Linked DNA regions of Homo sapiens. The protein of the gene in region 4 purifies or fractionates together with the protein of the main gene of each other region. This does not show direct contact. Each region holds a gene or a part of one and is shown on either strand. Other genes may lie near its edges.

What was found. Proteins that work in one complex are often made in the same cells at the same time.
Region 1: the proteins of METTL3 (region 4) and KRT2 purify together in Homo sapiens (affinity purification with mass spectrometry; one large-scale study listed by BioGRID and IntAct). This does not show direct contact.
Region 2: the proteins of METTL3 (region 4) and VPS4A purify together in Homo sapiens (affinity purification with mass spectrometry; one large-scale study listed by BioGRID and IntAct). This does not show direct contact.
Region 3: the proteins of METTL3 (region 4) and AFG2B purify together in Homo sapiens (affinity purification with mass spectrometry; 2 studies listed by BioGRID and IntAct, with this or other methods). This does not show direct contact.

The regions. Positions count from the first base shown.
Region 1 is NC_000012.12:52,649,329-52,653,593, forward strand, and holds the start of KRT2 (keratin, type II cytoskeletal 2 epidermal), read right to left. Parts: upstream 2,884-4,265; 5' UTR 2,815-2,883; coding exon 2,230-2,814; intron 1,226-2,229; coding exon 1,011-1,225; intron 647-1,010; coding exon 586-646; intron 1-585.
Region 2 is NC_000016.10:69,321,320-69,324,477, reverse strand, and holds part of VPS4A (vacuolar protein sorting-associated protein 4A), read right to left. Parts: intron 1,919-3,158; coding exon 1,778-1,918; intron 271-1,777; coding exon 169-270; 3' UTR 1-168. UniProt on the Homo sapiens protein: Involved in late steps of the endosomal multivesicular bodies (MVB) pathway. Recognizes membrane-associated ESCRT-III assemblies and catalyzes their disassembly, possibly in combination with membrane fission.
Region 3 is NC_000015.10:45,415,806-45,419,418, forward strand, and holds part of AFG2B (ATPase family gene 2 protein homolog B), read left to right. Parts: exon of another isoform or gene 1-100; intron 101-1,463; coding exon 1,464-1,594; intron 1,595-2,751; coding exon 2,752-2,877; intron 2,878-3,613. UniProt on the Homo sapiens protein: ATP-dependent chaperone part of the 55LCC heterohexameric ATPase complex which is chromatin-associated and promotes replisome proteostasis to maintain replication fork progression and genome stability.
Region 4 is NC_000014.9:21,504,049-21,509,243, forward strand, and holds part of METTL3 (N(6)-adenosine-methyltransferase catalytic subunit METTL3), read right to left. Parts: intron 1-5,195. UniProt on the Homo sapiens protein: The METTL3-METTL14 heterodimer forms a N6-methyltransferase complex that methylates adenosine residues at the N(6) position of some RNAs and regulates various processes such as the circadian clock, differentiation of embryonic and hematopoietic stem cells, cortical neurogenesis, response to DNA damage, differentiation of T-cells and primary miRNA processing.

The DNA.
Region 1 (4,265 bases), on a different chromosome or scaffold from region 4:
CTCGAGATGACCAAGCTTTGCCAACCAGCCCCTCTCTCCTGCTTGAGACACTGTGTGTTTCTACAACAGGATACGATGTTCTTTGTGGGTTTCCACAGTCCTCAGCTCTCTCATCCCGTCTGTCCATCTCACCTCTCCGAAATTTCCCCAGAATATACACCAAAGGCCCTGCAGGACCCAGCAGGAGAACCCTTGCTTTTGGCCTACAACCTCAAACCTTTGTCAGCACAACCAACAGCAACTTTAAGCAGGCATTCTAAGGGAAGTCCCATTCCTTCCTCAGCTCTTTAGAAGGAGAATACAAAGAGATTTTTGTGTTTGCATTTATCATGATTCAGTAGAGGCTTTAAGTGGGTTACTACTGGGAAGCACTCTACCAAAAATGCAGAACAGCTTTGAAAACTGTATCCAGAAGCTTGACCTACAGAGACAATTTTGTTTGCAAGAGAATGTGCCATGGGTCTCACTCCTTTCTCTGGCTGCTGCTTTTGCACTCACAGTTGATTTCCAAACTGGCTGCTTAGACACAATGGGGCTGTGAAGCACTCCTATCCCCACCCCCAGCCAAGACATTCTCTCGCTCACCTTTTTAAGCGTCACAAAATCATTCTCAGCAGCTGTGCGCTTATTGATTTCATCCTCATACCTATTGGGACACAGATGTTACAGCAGTTAGATTAGTTCCCCTTCATTTTTTTTCTTTTCCTTTTATACTGGATTCACCCCAAATGCCCCATTCTCTGGGAATATTACACACTTTTTAAATATCTAAATTGAAACTAAGATTTCCAAACTAAAGATATATTTTTATAAACTAACTCTCAAACATACAAAAGACAAAAATGATCTCTAAAGTCTCACTGTCTTCCTCACAAATAATCAACAAAGATACATATGCCTCTCCCCATTACCACCACAAATGCAACTGGGAGATGAATGGCTTTCCAGGGAGTGATCAAATGGCTCAGTGCAATGTTTATCTCCACTCAGCGTTTCACTCTGCCACCTACTTCTTCTTATAATCCTCCACAAGATCCTGCATGTTATTCAGCTCTGAATTCTGTGATGTTCTTTCTGCAGTGAGCCCATCCAGATATCTCTTGAGGCTGTCGATATACCCCTGGAAGATGGGCTCCAGGTTGATGGGGCGGGTGCCAACATTCATTTGTTGTAGCAGCTCCCATTTGGTCTGTAACACCTGGTTCTGCTGCTCCAAGAACCGCACCTGCCATGACCAGAAGGAGAGCACATGAGTTCTAGATCATCCTTCACACCAAGCAAGCCACGCTGGCCAGGGGCAGCTCAGGTGCTGCTTCAGGACCTCGAGAAGTGTCTGAGGCTGGATGCCGAGTCATGACTGGCAGAGCTTCTGAGCTCCCTGCTTTCGCCCCTGGAAAGTCCCACAGACTCCTAATGCTACATCCGGCTCTCTCCACGCAGAGGAGACTCTTTGCTGCTTCACTGCTCACTGGTTTGTTTGCAGCTGCTCCCAATACTCTAGACCATTTCCCTCCCCGCATCCTGGTTGAATTTCCAGCCAAGATCCCATAAATTCTGGGGAAAACCGAAAGCAGCCATCTGCTGGCACTGCTCGCAAGGGTGCTGAGTATGAGAGTCCCAGAGGGCAGGGCTCCTCAGCCTGATTTTTAAGAGCCTTGTAAATCCCTGCCTATTTCAAGGCAGATAAACCAAGACAGGTTCGTCTGCCTTGAAATAGGAGAAAAGCCAGTAACACTCCGAAGTGACACCAATAAAGACTTTATGGATCACAAAACTGAGAACGCTTCTCTTGAAGGCAGGAATTTCCTGCATTCCCAAGCAGATATTTCAGGTTCAGCTTCCCAGAGTTTAGTAATCACTGCTAAGGAAGGAAACACTATCTCAGAAGACGATGGCTTCCAAAACCTGCTGCTCCAGTGGCCTGTCCCAAGGATCAGTTCAATACTTGCCTATATCCATTTTTTATGGTTTTCAGAATTTTCCATAAATATTATTTATATGGACTGTAACAATAAGGTCAAAGGGACAAATGCTTCCTAAGTGCAGGCTGTTATGGGAAATGTAACCCACAAAGCTGGCGTCTTTTCCATCTGGAAACCGCAAATGACCCAGGCTACTGCGGTACACCACTGGCTCCTAAGAAATACAAATCTGTGCCATTTTCTTTTTGGTTGGCTCTGGAAGTGAAGTGGCCTGAGCATCAGTGGGAGCCGTCTTCTCCAGAGTCACCTTGTCAATGAAGGAGGCAAATTTGTTGTTGAGAGTTTTGATCTGCTCACGCTCTTGGGCCTTCACATTCTGGATCTCTGGGTCAACTTTCACGTTGAGAGGCTGCAGGAGGCTCTGGTTGACAGAGACTTCGTGGATGCCACCAGGGTATCCTCCAGGCCCAAAGCCACCAGGACCCCCTAAACCTCCAACACCACCAGGGCCCCCAAAACCTCCAAAGCGGCCTCCACCAAAGCCGCCTCCACCGAAACCACCACCACTGAAGCCGCTGCCACCTCCAAAGCTGCTGCCGCCTCCAAAACCACCTCCTCTGCCACCAAATCCACCAGCGGCGCCAAAGCCACCACCTCCTCCAGCCACACTAATGGAGATGCTCTTGGTCCCTCCAAGGCCAACAAGACTCCGACTGCCAAAGCCGCCTCCACCGAAGCCCCCGCCACCACCACCATGGCGGCTCAAGCAGGAGAAGCTGGAAGTTGATCTCCGGCTTCCACCAGACACCACAGCTGAGCCGCTGCTGAAGCCCCGGAATCCTCCTCCACCTCCTCCTCTTCCTCGAGATTTGCAAGAGATCTGACAACTCATGATGCCTTTGTCCAGGGAGGAAAGTCACAGGCTCTTGAGAAGAGTCAAGGCTGGAGACTCAACTGTGCTGCTGGGAGGCTTTCAGGGTCCCCTTATATACCTGCCAACTAGGTGTTGTGTACATGGGTGTGGATCCACTTATACGTGGGTTTGGTCTGCCTGGGAGCTATTCCTGGTGCGTGATTATCAAGCTAATAGCCATTAAAAATCTACTAATCAGCTCCATCCCAGAACTTGCTTTGATTGCAAACTTCTGTTTATCTGGGCATCTGTCATGCAATTTGATTTTTGTAAAATCATCAAAAGAGGAGATCAGGGTTTGGGTTTCTCAATCTGGAAAAGGACCTTCTGCAGAATGCTGCTCCCTGTTCTGGACCTGCCCAAGGGAAGTCAGCTACCACCCATGCTTGTGCAGGCTCACCACCCCAGTTCAACAATGAAAGGGATGGTGGGTTTAGAGACTGCAAGAGCCCCTCAATGCCAGCCTTGTAGTTCTCTTGTAGTTTCCCTCTTTCCCAGAAAGAGCCCCAACTAGTGCAGGGGAGACTGCAAAGGTCTTAAATGACCTTAAATGCTAATTGGAAATCGACCTCCTCTTACAGAAAGTAATTGGCCTCGGATACTGCAAAAGAGGTGTCGATTTTCAAAATATCTTGGCTCTTTTCTTCCCATGCCACACCAAAAATACACAATAACTAGGCACCGAATAGAGATTTTTTATAACCATGATGGTTTGTATAACCATCAACTGTCCCTTGTCTACATGAACACCCAGAGGTTGAGAGGTATGAGAAAAGTTTCGCTGTTTCTGGACCTGTGTGATGCGGGACACCAAGTGAAAGTTTGCAAACCAAGATCCAAGTGTATATTGATTCAGTCAGTCAGTAATCACGTATTGCCTGGTGATCCTGGGAAGTGATTAGGAAGTCAGGCTCTTCAATGACATCCACAGATGCTTGAGGATAAGAAGACCATCCAGCCTGCACAGAGCACTCACACTTAAACTCAACCACTTCCTCTGTCCATGTGGCCAACTATGTGGGAGAGGTTCTTGGAGTAATAAAACTGAATTTAGTCAGAAATTCTGGGTTTGAGTCCCAGTTTTGCTATTTATTGGCTGTGAGGCCTTGAATGAAACCCTGAGGCTCTGTGGTCCCAGCTATAAAATGGGAAATTCGTATGAAGTGTTTTGAAAACCACCGTGCACAATAAAATGTCAGTATCATTATTGTTTGGGGTGAGACAAAGATAATTCCTTTTCCTTTCCCCCTTGCCATGTTACTGTCTTCTGGCTACTATGAACATGCACTCTCCACAGGCATCATAAATTACAGAACCAGGTGGTTCAGATCCTAGTACCAAGTTATCACAAAATAATGTAAAAAACATAAGTTTGAGGTCAAATCCCAATTTTCTTGTATCTTAGTTAAATGACCTCAGATAATCCATAA
Region 2 (3,158 bases), on a different chromosome or scaffold from region 4:
GGCTGCAAGGCCCTTCCTTCTGGCTCCCTGGCAGACGGCCAGACAGCAGAGGGAACTCTGTATTGACTGGGACAAGCCCTGGAGCCCTGTCTGGCTGTTGACATGGGGAGTGCCTGGATTTGCCCCAATCAACCTCCCACCTTCACCATTGCCCAAGTGAAGCAGCTTTTAACTCTCTTGCCCAAAGTCCTCTGAGAATTTCTTCACTTTCAGGAGGTCGTCTGCATTCACCGTGGGCCGGGTGGTGGCCAGAGACCGCAGCATGTCCGACTGTGAAGGCAACAGTATGTGCCTGAGCAGGAGCCAGGCTCCAGGTCCCCAACCTCCCCTCAGCACACAACAGGCGCAGCTGAGGGTGGGAAGAGGTTTGCCTTCAAGGCCACCCCAGAGGCCTGCTTGAATCTGCCTATGGCAGGGACCCTCTTCCCTCTCGAGGCAGCTCAGATGGGCCTCCTCCTGGTCTGAGAATCTAAGCTCCATCATCTCATAACTCCCCTTACGAACTTGCTTTCTTTTTTTTTTTTTTTTTTTTTGGAGACGGAGTCTGTCACCCAGGCTGGAGTGCAGTGGCATGATCTCGGCTCACCGCAACCTCCACCTCCTCGGTTCAAGTGACTCTCCTGCCTCAGCCTCCCAAATAGCTGGGACTACAGGCACGTGCCACCACACATGGCTGATTTTTGTATTTTTAGCAGAGACGGGGTTTCACTATGTTGGCCAGGCTGCTCTTGAACTCCTGACCTCAGGCGATCTGCCCGCCTCGGCCTCCCGAAGTGCTGGGATTACAGGCGGGAGCCACGGCGCCCGGCCAGGAGCCTTCTTAGCTGCACACCCCCAACACCAGCCACAAGGGCAGACCCTTGCCAGGATGGCACGGGCCAGGCTATGCAGGTGAGGCGCTGCCTTTGCAACTGCGTCACAGTCTTGACACATTCACTGCCTCACTGCACCGCAAAGCCAAACCCATGGATTGACGTCATATTATCTGGACCTGACTTTACTTGCTAAAGAATATAAAATGCAGGCTAGGTGTGGTGGCTCAGCTCATGCTTGTAATCCCAGCACTTTGGGAGGCCACGCTGAGAGGATCACTTGAGCCCAGCAGTTTCAGACTGGCCTGGGCAACACTGTGAGGCCGTTTCTAAAAAAAAAAGGAAAAATTAGCTGGGCATGATGGTGTGTGCCTGTTGCTACTCAGGAGGCTGAGGTCAGAAGATTGTGTGAGCTCGTGAGGTCAAGCCTGCAGTGAGCTATCACTGCACCACTGCATCTAGCCTTTCTCTGTATGTACAAAATGCTAATGCTGCCACCTGCATTCTGGGCCCCCAGTGAGTGTAATGCCAGCTTCCCTGAGCTACAAAGGCCATTCTCAACAGCCCAGGACATAGAAGAAGACTATTTTTTATTTTTGAGACGGAGTCTCACTCTGTCACCCAGGCTGGAGTGCAGTGGCCCAATCTCTGCTCACTGCAACCTCTGCCTCCCGGCTTCAAGCGATCCTTCTGCCTCAGCCTCCTGAGTAGCTGGGACTACAAGTGCACACCACCACACCCGGCTAATTTTTGTATTTTTAGTAGAGACAGGGTTTCTCCATATTGGCTAGGCTGGTCTCGAACTCCTAACCTTGTGATCTGCCCACCCTGGCCTCCCAAAGTGCTGGGATTACAGGCGTGAGCTACCATGCCTGGCCTGGAGAAGACCGTTTTTATTCTGGACCCAAACCCTCAATTTTCTGGGCTCTGTGCAGCCCTCTTCCCTCCCCTGTCAAGTCACTTACCATGCAAACCACAGGCTCTAAGAGTTTGTCCCCAGGGACATCCATCCAAGTCATCTCCATGGCTCCTGGGTCCCCTGGTGAGCATGGAGTCAGGAGGTCATCAATCATCATGCTGGGGTTGGTGCGAGAGGGGCCACAGACCTGAAACCAAATGGATCTGACTGGGGCAGCTGCCCCTCAGTGTCAGAGGGGCTCGACCCCTCCGGTCTCTAAGGAAGTCCCAAAGAGAATGCTCTGTGGGTCCCTAGCATCTGAGGAGGACGGGCTCCTTCAGAACTCGGGCTGGGTGGTCCGAGCGACTCATGATTTGCATGGGACTCTGGCAATCTGTAGCCCCAATGCCTTGATGTCTTCCTCATTAACACTGTCACGTCTCACCAGGAATACAGTGACATTAAAAGTGTGATATGGTTTAGCTGTGCCCCCACCCACATTTCAACTTGAACTGTATCTATCTCCCAGAATTCCCACATGTTGTGGGAGGGACCCAGGGGGAGGTAACTGAATCATGGGGGCTGGTCTTTCCCGTGCTATTCTCGTGATGGTGAAGTCTCACGAGATCTGATGGGTTTATCAGGGGTTTCCACTTTTGTTTCTTCATTTTCTCTTGCCACCAGCATGTAAGAAGTGCCTTTGGTCTCCTACCATGATTCTGAGGCCTCCCTAGCCATGTGGAACTGTAAGGCCAATTAAACCTCTTTTTCTTCCCAGTCTCGGGTATGTCTTTATCAGCAGCATGAAAATAGATTAACACAAAGTGGTTTTCCAACTGAAGTCCGCTGCCTTGGCAAAACATTCCCCCAATGTCCACAAGGCTCATTCCCTCACACCTTCACCTCCTGTCTCAGGCATCACCCCAGTGCCATCTGCCCTTCCCTCCATGCCCGAGACACCTCTCTCCTAACCCTGCTCCATCTCCATCCTCTGAGACACTCACTGACTGTGTTGACTGTCTCCCCACCAACAACGGAAGGTCTAGGATTTTTGTCTGTTGGTCACTCATATCTTCCCAGCACTTAGGACAGGGCCGGGCACACAGGAGGACCCACAGCAAATACTCAGCAGAGATCTGCTGAATGAATAGACAGGTCTTCCTGGTCATTTTATATCCAACACTTTCCAAACACTGATTTGGTGTCCACCCCGCACAAGAGCACACAGTGCTGACGGAGGAGGCCGCAGCAGGGTTAAGACAGTAAAGTGGCCCTGTCCTCTGCTTTCACACACCCTGAGATGGCCACACTCCAGAAGAGCTGCAGGGAGGGGACAGTGGGTGCAGCCCCCATGGCACTGGCCCTCGGCTCTCCAGGAGGCCTCAGAGACTGTGTCACCTGAGCAGCCGGGGAGCAGGACCAGGAGCTGGGAAAAAAAAAACCGAACA
Region 3 (3,613 bases), on a different chromosome or scaffold from region 4:
AGAGGTATTTATTAGCCAGAATGCACCTAAAATCCAGGCCAACATTAAATATAATGCATATATGCTATAGCTTTACCTATGCTGAATTCATCTCATAGAAGGATTTATATAATTTCAGTTTGACTTTGTTAGGACTTTTAGAGCTAATAAAAATTGTGATTTGGCTAGGAAAGGTGAGGTACATTTTATAATAAATTATCTTAAATATAAGAATGTGAATTTTATTTTTCCTAAGAATGAGAAATATAATTTTACTTATTGCTAATAGAGAAGGCAGTTTATTCTTGTTTGCATGTCCTAAAAACCAGTATTCATTTCTTTCTAAAAATGTTTATGTAGACTGGGCACAGTGGCACACGCCTGTAATCCCAGCACTTTGGGAGGCCAAGGCAGAAGGGTTGCTTGAGGCCAGGAGTTTGAGACTAGCCTGGCCAACATAGCAAGGCCCCATATCTGAATGAATGAATGAATGAATGAAAAACAAAGGAGATTATTATTTCCAATAGTCTTAGTAATGGAACATTTCCAGTTTTCTTGAGGAATGAGTTTCTTTGGTTTTAATGAATTAAAATGGCCTTTGGAAGTCCCCTCCCTCTTTCTGAGTCTCTTCTCCAGATGAGTTTGGTATCCTTAAATTGTCCCTGATACTTTTTCTTTTATTCCTCTCTCGTTCTCATTCTTTTCCTATTTTAAAAATTGTCATATGGAATTGTTGCATACACTCCTTAGGAATATGTCACACTAGAATTAGGAGGTATCCACGAGGTTATCTAATCAAATCATTTCAAAATGCAGGAATTCCTTCTATAGCATCTGACAGGTATTCACCCAGCATCTGCTAAAATACTTGCAAATATAGGGAACTTTGTACTTTGAGGGATTACGTCACTGGAGAGCTGCCTGATTATTCAACAAATGATTTTGAATGCTTAGTATATGTAAAGCCTTTCTCTGTCTGCTTTTAGACATTTCTTTATCCAGGATTTGCGCACCTGCAACTTAGATTGTCATTTCAAAGAAAAATAAAAGGTCGAGTAAATCTTCCTCTTTAGGGATATGAGAGTCAAGACTTTCTGTAGCCATATATCTCCACCGGTTGGTCATAAGTATCTGTCTTTTTAAGTAGCCTGTTTAAGGTGTAAGCCTTCATTGGAGGCTCAGGTGCACTCAAGTCACCAGATGAGTGTTCTCCCCTTTGGGATAAGGCTTTTCATAGGTTCTCATATGGAGAATGTTTCTCTTAGCTACTCCCTTAGCCATGCACACAAAGTAGCTCTTTGGTTAATGATTTGTTTCTGGGATATCTTGATATCAAGAAGCTGGTCTGGAAAGCGGATATAAGCATTCTGGTCCCAAGAAAAGGATATCCCTATTTGAATTTAAATAGACCTTCTGATTTATAATTTTTAGAAAACTTATTAACAACTGATTGACATTACTTTGTGTTGTGTGTTTGCCCTCAGAGTTTCAAGAAGTTTTTAACCGAAGTGTCATGATTATTGCAGCAACAAATAGACCTGATGTGTTAGATACTGCTTTGTTACGACCTGGAAGATTAGATAAGATCATCTATATCCCACCTCCAGATCACAAGGTAGTCATTTACACATTTACTCTGTGTGAGCTCAGCAGAATTGAATTCCAACTTGGATATAGGTGTCCATGGTGTTCTACTTACCCTGGGTTCCGCCTTCTTCCTTGCCTGGTGGCCTTTCATGACATCATAATTTTGATCTTCCTTTGTTGGATACTCTGATCTTGTTCACAGAGAAACATAAGCCTAAATATATGGTGGTTATTTTTTGTGTTGTGGCAGACTCTAAATACTGAGTCTACTCAGCGTTATTTTGCAACTAGAGTGGAGGAATCCTAAAGTGTTAAAAGGGCTTTGAAGATTGAGTCAGCATCCTTATCATACAGTGCAGAAGTCTGAAATTACAGAGATTATGCAGTGTATCGTGGTCAACCAGTAAATTTGTTGTCCGTAAAGTACGGTGCAGAAATCTGAGATTACAGAGATTATGCAGTGTATCATGGTCAACCAGTACATTTTTTGTCGTTAACATCCAGAGCCACTGACAGGGAGGGTGAAAGGCACAGAGTGAATTTTTTTGTTCCTTGGGCTTTTATCAAGTTTTGAAGGGATAGAAAAATAAAATTTAATATCTATTATACCTTTAAGTTGTATCTGATAATTCATGTATTTGCTTCTTAAGCCATGTCTGATAGTATTATTTGTACCCAAGAGAGAGATTTAGCCGGGCGTGGTGGCTCACATCTGTAATCCCAGCACTTTGGGAGGCCAAGGCGGGTAGATCACCAGAGGTCAGGAGTTCGAGACTAGCCTGGCCAACATGGTGAAACCCCATCTCTACTAAAAATACAAAAATTAGCTGGATGTGGTGGCAGGCGCCTGTAATCCCAGCTACTTGGGAGGCTGAGACAGGAGAATCACTTGAACCCGGGAGGTGGAGGTTGTAGTGAGCCAAGATCGTGCCAGTGTACTCCAGCCTGGGTGACAGAGCGAGACTCCATCTCAAAAAAAAAAAAAAAAAAAAGATTCATAAGTTTTTTATGATGTCGTTATTTTTACCATTGTCATATAAGCCATTGATGACTTAGTCTTTCTAACCCCTATATATATTTTCTCGGTAATGTGAAAGGAAACTCAAGCTAAAAATATTTTAATAAATCATTGTGTCAAACATAAATGTTATAAGATTTAAAATACTGTTTTTTATTTTGTTCCAGGGCAGGCTTTCTATTTTAAAAGTCTGTACAAAAACCATGCCAATAGGGCCTGATGTCTCCTTAGAAAACCTCGCAGCAGAAACCTGTTTTTTTTCTGGAGCTGATCTTAGAAACCTCTGCACAGAAGTAAGTTAATTATTGAAGAAATTTGTGGTTCAAAACATTTCTGCATCTTTTCAAATCTTCATTCACTCAGCAGTATTTACTAAAAGCCTGTGTGGTACCATGTGATGTGAAACAGACAGATGTGGCCCCATCCCTCACACAGCTTATTGTAAGTGTGGGGTGGTGAGGAGGGTGGTGCAGAGAGGCAAATCTTAATACTGAGTTGGCAATTGAAAATATGTAGTGAGTTGCGGAAGTAGAGGGTACTGTGGGAGCACCTAGGAAAGACACCAGCCCAGATTTGGCACATCAGAGAAGGCTTTCTGAGAAAGGAGATGTATAAACTGAAATTGGAAGGACAAATCGGGAGTTAGCCAGCTAAGAAGGGAAGGGGGAATGTTTGAGGTGGAGAGAATAAAATGTGCAAAGGATTGAAGATAAGAGATGGTGTGACATTATTGAATCTTAGAGTGGAGAATGGCAAGAAATAAAGCGAAAGAAGTGGGCTAGGCGTGGTGGCTCGTGCCTGTGATCCCAGCATTTTGGGAGGCCAAGGCGAGAGGATTGCTTTAGCCCAGGAGTTTAAGATCAGCCTGGGTAATACAGTGAGACCCCATCTCTAGAAAAAATAAAAAATTAGTCAAATGTGGTGTTAGTCCCAGCTACGTGGGGGACTAGTAGTCCCAGCTACTTGGGAGGGGGAGATGGGAGGATTGCTTGAGCCTGGGAAGCGAAGGTTGCAGTAAGATGAGATCGT
Region 4 (5,195 bases):
TTCACTGCTTTGTCAAGATAATACTGGATTTTCTATCTACCTTTTCTCTATTGAGTGAGTAATCTTTTCCTAATTCCCTATCCTTGCTGTGATACAAAGAAAGTAAATTAGCATGATAGATTTAAATATCCCTACCACCTTTCTATCAACCTACATTTTAATAAAGGACAGGAATATACTCAACAACCTAGGCTGGGATCCAATATTCTTTTTGAGGCATGTAGTGTGAATTTTAATGAATTCAGGCCACTGATCAACAAAGTGTACAAAATGACAATGTTGGGGGCCAACAGTGTTACCTATAACACTCACAAACACAAAAATCTTAATACTTTGCTGAAGCCTTGGTTACCAAATGATATTTCCTGACTATATTATTATCATCTATTACTTCACAAGCTGGGTTGCCATCATAACCTTAATAACGATTTGAGAAACTAAAATTAGGACAAAATGTTATCTTTGAGAAAGCCTAATATCTGTGGTTAATTAAAATATAGATGAAATATTAAACTCCTAAGAACTGAACTGAAATTGCTAAATAAGTAGGCCATTAGTTTACATTTAGAAATATTTTGTTTACTTAAATATTTCCATTCTGGTAAGGCACTGGGGCTCACGCCTGTAATCCCAGCACTCTGGGAGGCCAAGGTGGGTGGATCACTTGAGGTGAGGAGTTCGAGACCAGCCTGGCCAACATGGTGAAACCCCATCTCTACTAAAATACAAAAAAAAAAAAAATTTAGCTGGGGGTGGTGATGCAAGGTTATAATCCCAGCTACTGGGGAGGCTGAAGGAGGAGAATTGCTTGAACCCACGAGGCAGAGGCTGCAGTGAGCCAACATCATGCCACTGCACTCCAGACTGGGCGACAGAGCAAGACTCTGTCTCAAAAAATATATAAATAAATAATTCATTAATTTGAAAATTTTCCACTCTAATGGAAACTGAATTTATTAAAATCTGACTCAGGGCTTGGTGTGGTGCCTTATCTCTGTAATCCCAGCACTGTGAGAGGCCAAGGTGGGAGGATCACTTGAGCCCAGGAGTTCCAGACCAGCCAGGGGAACATGGTGAAACCCAGTGTCTCTAAAGAAAATTTTTTTAAAAATTAGCCACACAAGGTGGCCTGTGCCTGTAGTCCCAGCTGCTGGGGAGGCTGAGGTGGGAGGATTCCACTCTCACCCATTTCTTCTTTCATTTTCAGTTTCTCCAGTTAGTAACTGAAGATGTTCTTTGAGTAATTAAGTGAGTGAGAAAATTTTTAAGTGAGAAATCTATAAAAAGAACCATGTTAACATAAATATTTCAGTCCTTACAAGTTGGTATTGACTTTTCTCATTGGTAATCTGACTGATTTAATACTGCTCATTCCAATATCTGGTGATGTAATTCTGGTTATGAATCCTTGTATTAATAACACCTCCTGGGAGGTTTTTTTTCCCCAACATTACATTCAGAATATTAGAGCTGAAAATACCTTTTTTAAGGTTATCAGGAGGAGGGAGCTTATGTTTAATGTGGTGGATAAAACTTAACTGCTGGTTAATACAATTGTTATTCAGGTGAAATTCCCTAAACTTTTCACGTGCAAAGTTTTGTATGTATACAGACATTTGGGGAAAAGTTTTATCATCCCTAAAACCGGTTACTGTCCAGAAAATGATAAGAATCCCTGGGTTCCAAATCCTTCATAAGGTATTTATTCATTTATTTATTCAACACATTTACTCAATGCCTCCGCTCTGCTGCAACTACACTGACATTCTGCTTCTAATCTAACGAAAATAATGTGTTCGGTTTAGCAAAATAATACATAACACTTGATTCACCCTTTAATTAAGAGAACCACTGAAATTAATATGGTCTGATTACAAATTTGCTGAATCCTTAAACGTGTCAACATCTATATGCACATCTTCAATCTCAAGAAATATACTGGAGCACTTCACATATTTACTATGTGCTAAACCTGGCCAAATATAGTTTGTTTCCATTAAAATAAAGTTTTTTTTTTTGAGACGGAGTCTTGCTCTGTTGCCAAGGCCAAAATAAAGATTTTTTTAAGTAATATTTTTCTTTTTAAAAAAATATACTTTACCAACATGAGATATATAACACCCATTAGGATGGCGCTTCCTCAAAAATCAAAAATAGAATTACCATATGATCTAGCAATTCCACTTTTGGGTATATGCCCAAAAGCATTAAAGCGGGGTCTCGGCCGGGCGTGGTTGGCTCACACCTGTAATCCTAGCACTTTGGGAGGCAGAGGCGGGCAGATCACGAGGTCAGGAGATCGAGACCATCCTGGCTAACACGGTGAAACCCCGTCTCTACTAAAAATACAAAAAAATTAGCCGGACGTGGTGGCAGGCACCTGTAGTCCCAGCTACTCAGGAGGCTAAGGCAGGAGAATGGGGTGAACCCAGGAGGTGGAGCTTGCAGTGAGCCGAGATCGCGCTACTGCACTCCAGCCTGGGTGACAGAGCGAGACTCCGTCTCAAGAAAAAACAAAACAAAAAAGAATTAAAGCAGGGTCTCAAAGAGATATTCATACACCCAGGTTCATAGCAGCATTATTTACAATAGCCAAAAGGTAGAAGTAACCCAAACGCCCACCCATGGATGAATGAACAAAATGTGTTATATACATACAGTGGAATATTATTTATCCTTCAAAAGGAAGGAGGCCAGGCATGGAGGCTTATGCCTGTAATCCCAGCACTTTGGGAGGCTGAGGATGGAGGATCACTTGAGCTCAGGAGTCCAAGACCAACCTAAGCAACATGGCAAAACCCTGTTGGGCGTTTTGCCCAAAAAATACTAAAAATTAGCCAGGCAAGGTTGTATGTGCCTGTAGTACATACAACAAGCACCTGCCACCACACCTGGCTAATTTTTATATTTTTAGTAGAGACAGAGTTTCACCATGTTGGCCAGGCTGGTCTTGAACTCCTGACCTCAGGTGATCCACCCGCCTTAGCCTTCCAAAGGCTGTGGACACCTGTAGTCACAACTACTCGGGAGGCTGAGGCAGGAGAATTGCTTGAACCCAGGAGGCAGAGGTTGCAGTGAGGTGAGATGGCACCACTGCACTCCAGCCTGGGCAACAAGAGCGAAACTCTGTCTCAAAAAATAAATAAATAAATAAATAAATAATAAAAATGCCAATCTAACAAAGGTCTCCCAATATTTTGCCCATATTATTTTCCACTATTAACGATGTGGTGGGTACATTTTAGTTCATTTTATATCCTTGTCTTTTGACACTCAGTTCAGTAGTCGGTAATTATCAGATTTCAGTAATGCTGTAAAAAACAAGGTGTGGCCGGGCGCGGTGGCTCACACCTGTAATCCCAGCAATTTGAGAGGCCGAGATGGGCGGATCACGAGGTCAGGAGATCGAGACCATCCTGGCTAACACTGTGAAACCCCGTCTCTACTAAAAACGATACAAAAAAATCAGCCAGGCATGGTGGTGGGCACCTTTAGTCCCAGCTACTTGGGAGGCTGAGGCAGGAGAATGGCGTGAACCTGGCAGTCGGAGCTTGCAGTGAGCCGAGATCGCGCCACTGCATTCCAGCCTGGGCAACAGATGTGGTAGGCAAATTTTTATTTCCGGTGAGAAACGAATGGAATAATCTGAACTTTTATCAAGTCTTGAGTTATATCTTACATGACAACATGATTCATAAACTTACAATACAGTGTTTCACAAGGGTTTCCTAAGAATCCTAAAGCTCAACAAAATACATTCTTTGAAATAATCAAAATAACACAGAAAGAACAGTGACATTCTGGTTTAATTTGTATGTTTCATCTTTACCTATTACCACAGTACCAAATGATGGGTCAGATCAAGCTCTCGGTCAGAAGACAAGATACATTTAATTACAACCCCAAAAATACTTTTATAAGAGTCTTAACTAGACTGGGATTACATCTGTAATCCCAGCACTTTGGGAGGCCAGGGTGGGAGGATAGCTTGAGCCCAAGAGTCCAAGACCAGCCTGGGCAACATGGCAAGGCCCTGTTTCTACAAAGAAATAAAAATTAAAAAGTAGGCAGGCATGGTAGGGTACACCTGTGGTGCTAGCCACTCAGGAGGAGGCTGAGGCAGGAGGATCACTTGAGCCCTGAGGTCGAGACTGCAGTAAGCTGTGTTCACGCCACTGAATTCCAGCCTGGGTAACAGAACGAGATTCTTATCTTACACACACACACACACAGAAAAGGGTCTTAGCTATATTACTAGCTAAATATACAAATCAAGAGATATTCACATCTAAAAAAGAAAAAATAAATAAAAATAAAAAAGGATATGTACATGCAGGGAGAATACAGTCTTATTGTCAAAAATATTAAACATGTTTAGCAAGGACCTGGATCAAAGTATCAAGGCTCTAGTAGTTAGGTCTGCATACAGCAGAAAGTTTGGTTAATACCAAAATGTAGTTAATGTCATAGAAAAATGAAATGAAACTTAAAATGACCAAGAGCAATTAGAATCATTCATTGAAAGAGTATGAATTTAGAAATGGAAAAGTATAAAGAAGTATGATGCCGGGCACAGTGGCTCACACCTGTAATCCCAGCACTTTGGGAAACTGAGGCGGGCAGATCAGCAGAGGTTGGGAGTTTGAGACCAGCCTGACCAACATGGAGAAACCCCGTCTCTACTAAAAATACAAAATTAGCCAGGAGTGGTGGCACATGCCTGTAATCCCAGCTACTCAGGAAGCTGAGGCAGGAGAATCACTTGAACCTGGGAGGCGGAGGTTGCGGTGAGCCAAGATCGCGCCATTGCACTCTGGCCTGGGCAACAAGAGCGAAACTCCATCTCAAAAATAAATAAATAAGTATGATGAGGAACAATTAAAACCAAGAAACAACAAACAACACCACAGATAGAGGATGGCCTGTCACAAAAACGACAGAAAGGTGAACACAAAGTAGTCAATGATGTAGTACACCAATATAGCGGCTTTTTAAAAGTTAATTTTGTAGGCCAGGCATGGTGGCTCACGCCTGTAATCCCAGCACTTTGGGAGGCCAACGTGAGTGGATTGCTTGAGCTCAGGAGTTAGAGATCAGCCTGGGCAACATGGTGAAACCCCTTCTCCACCAAAAATACAAAAAATAGCTGGGCATGGTAGCACACGCCTGTGGCCCCAGCTACTTGAGAGGCTGAA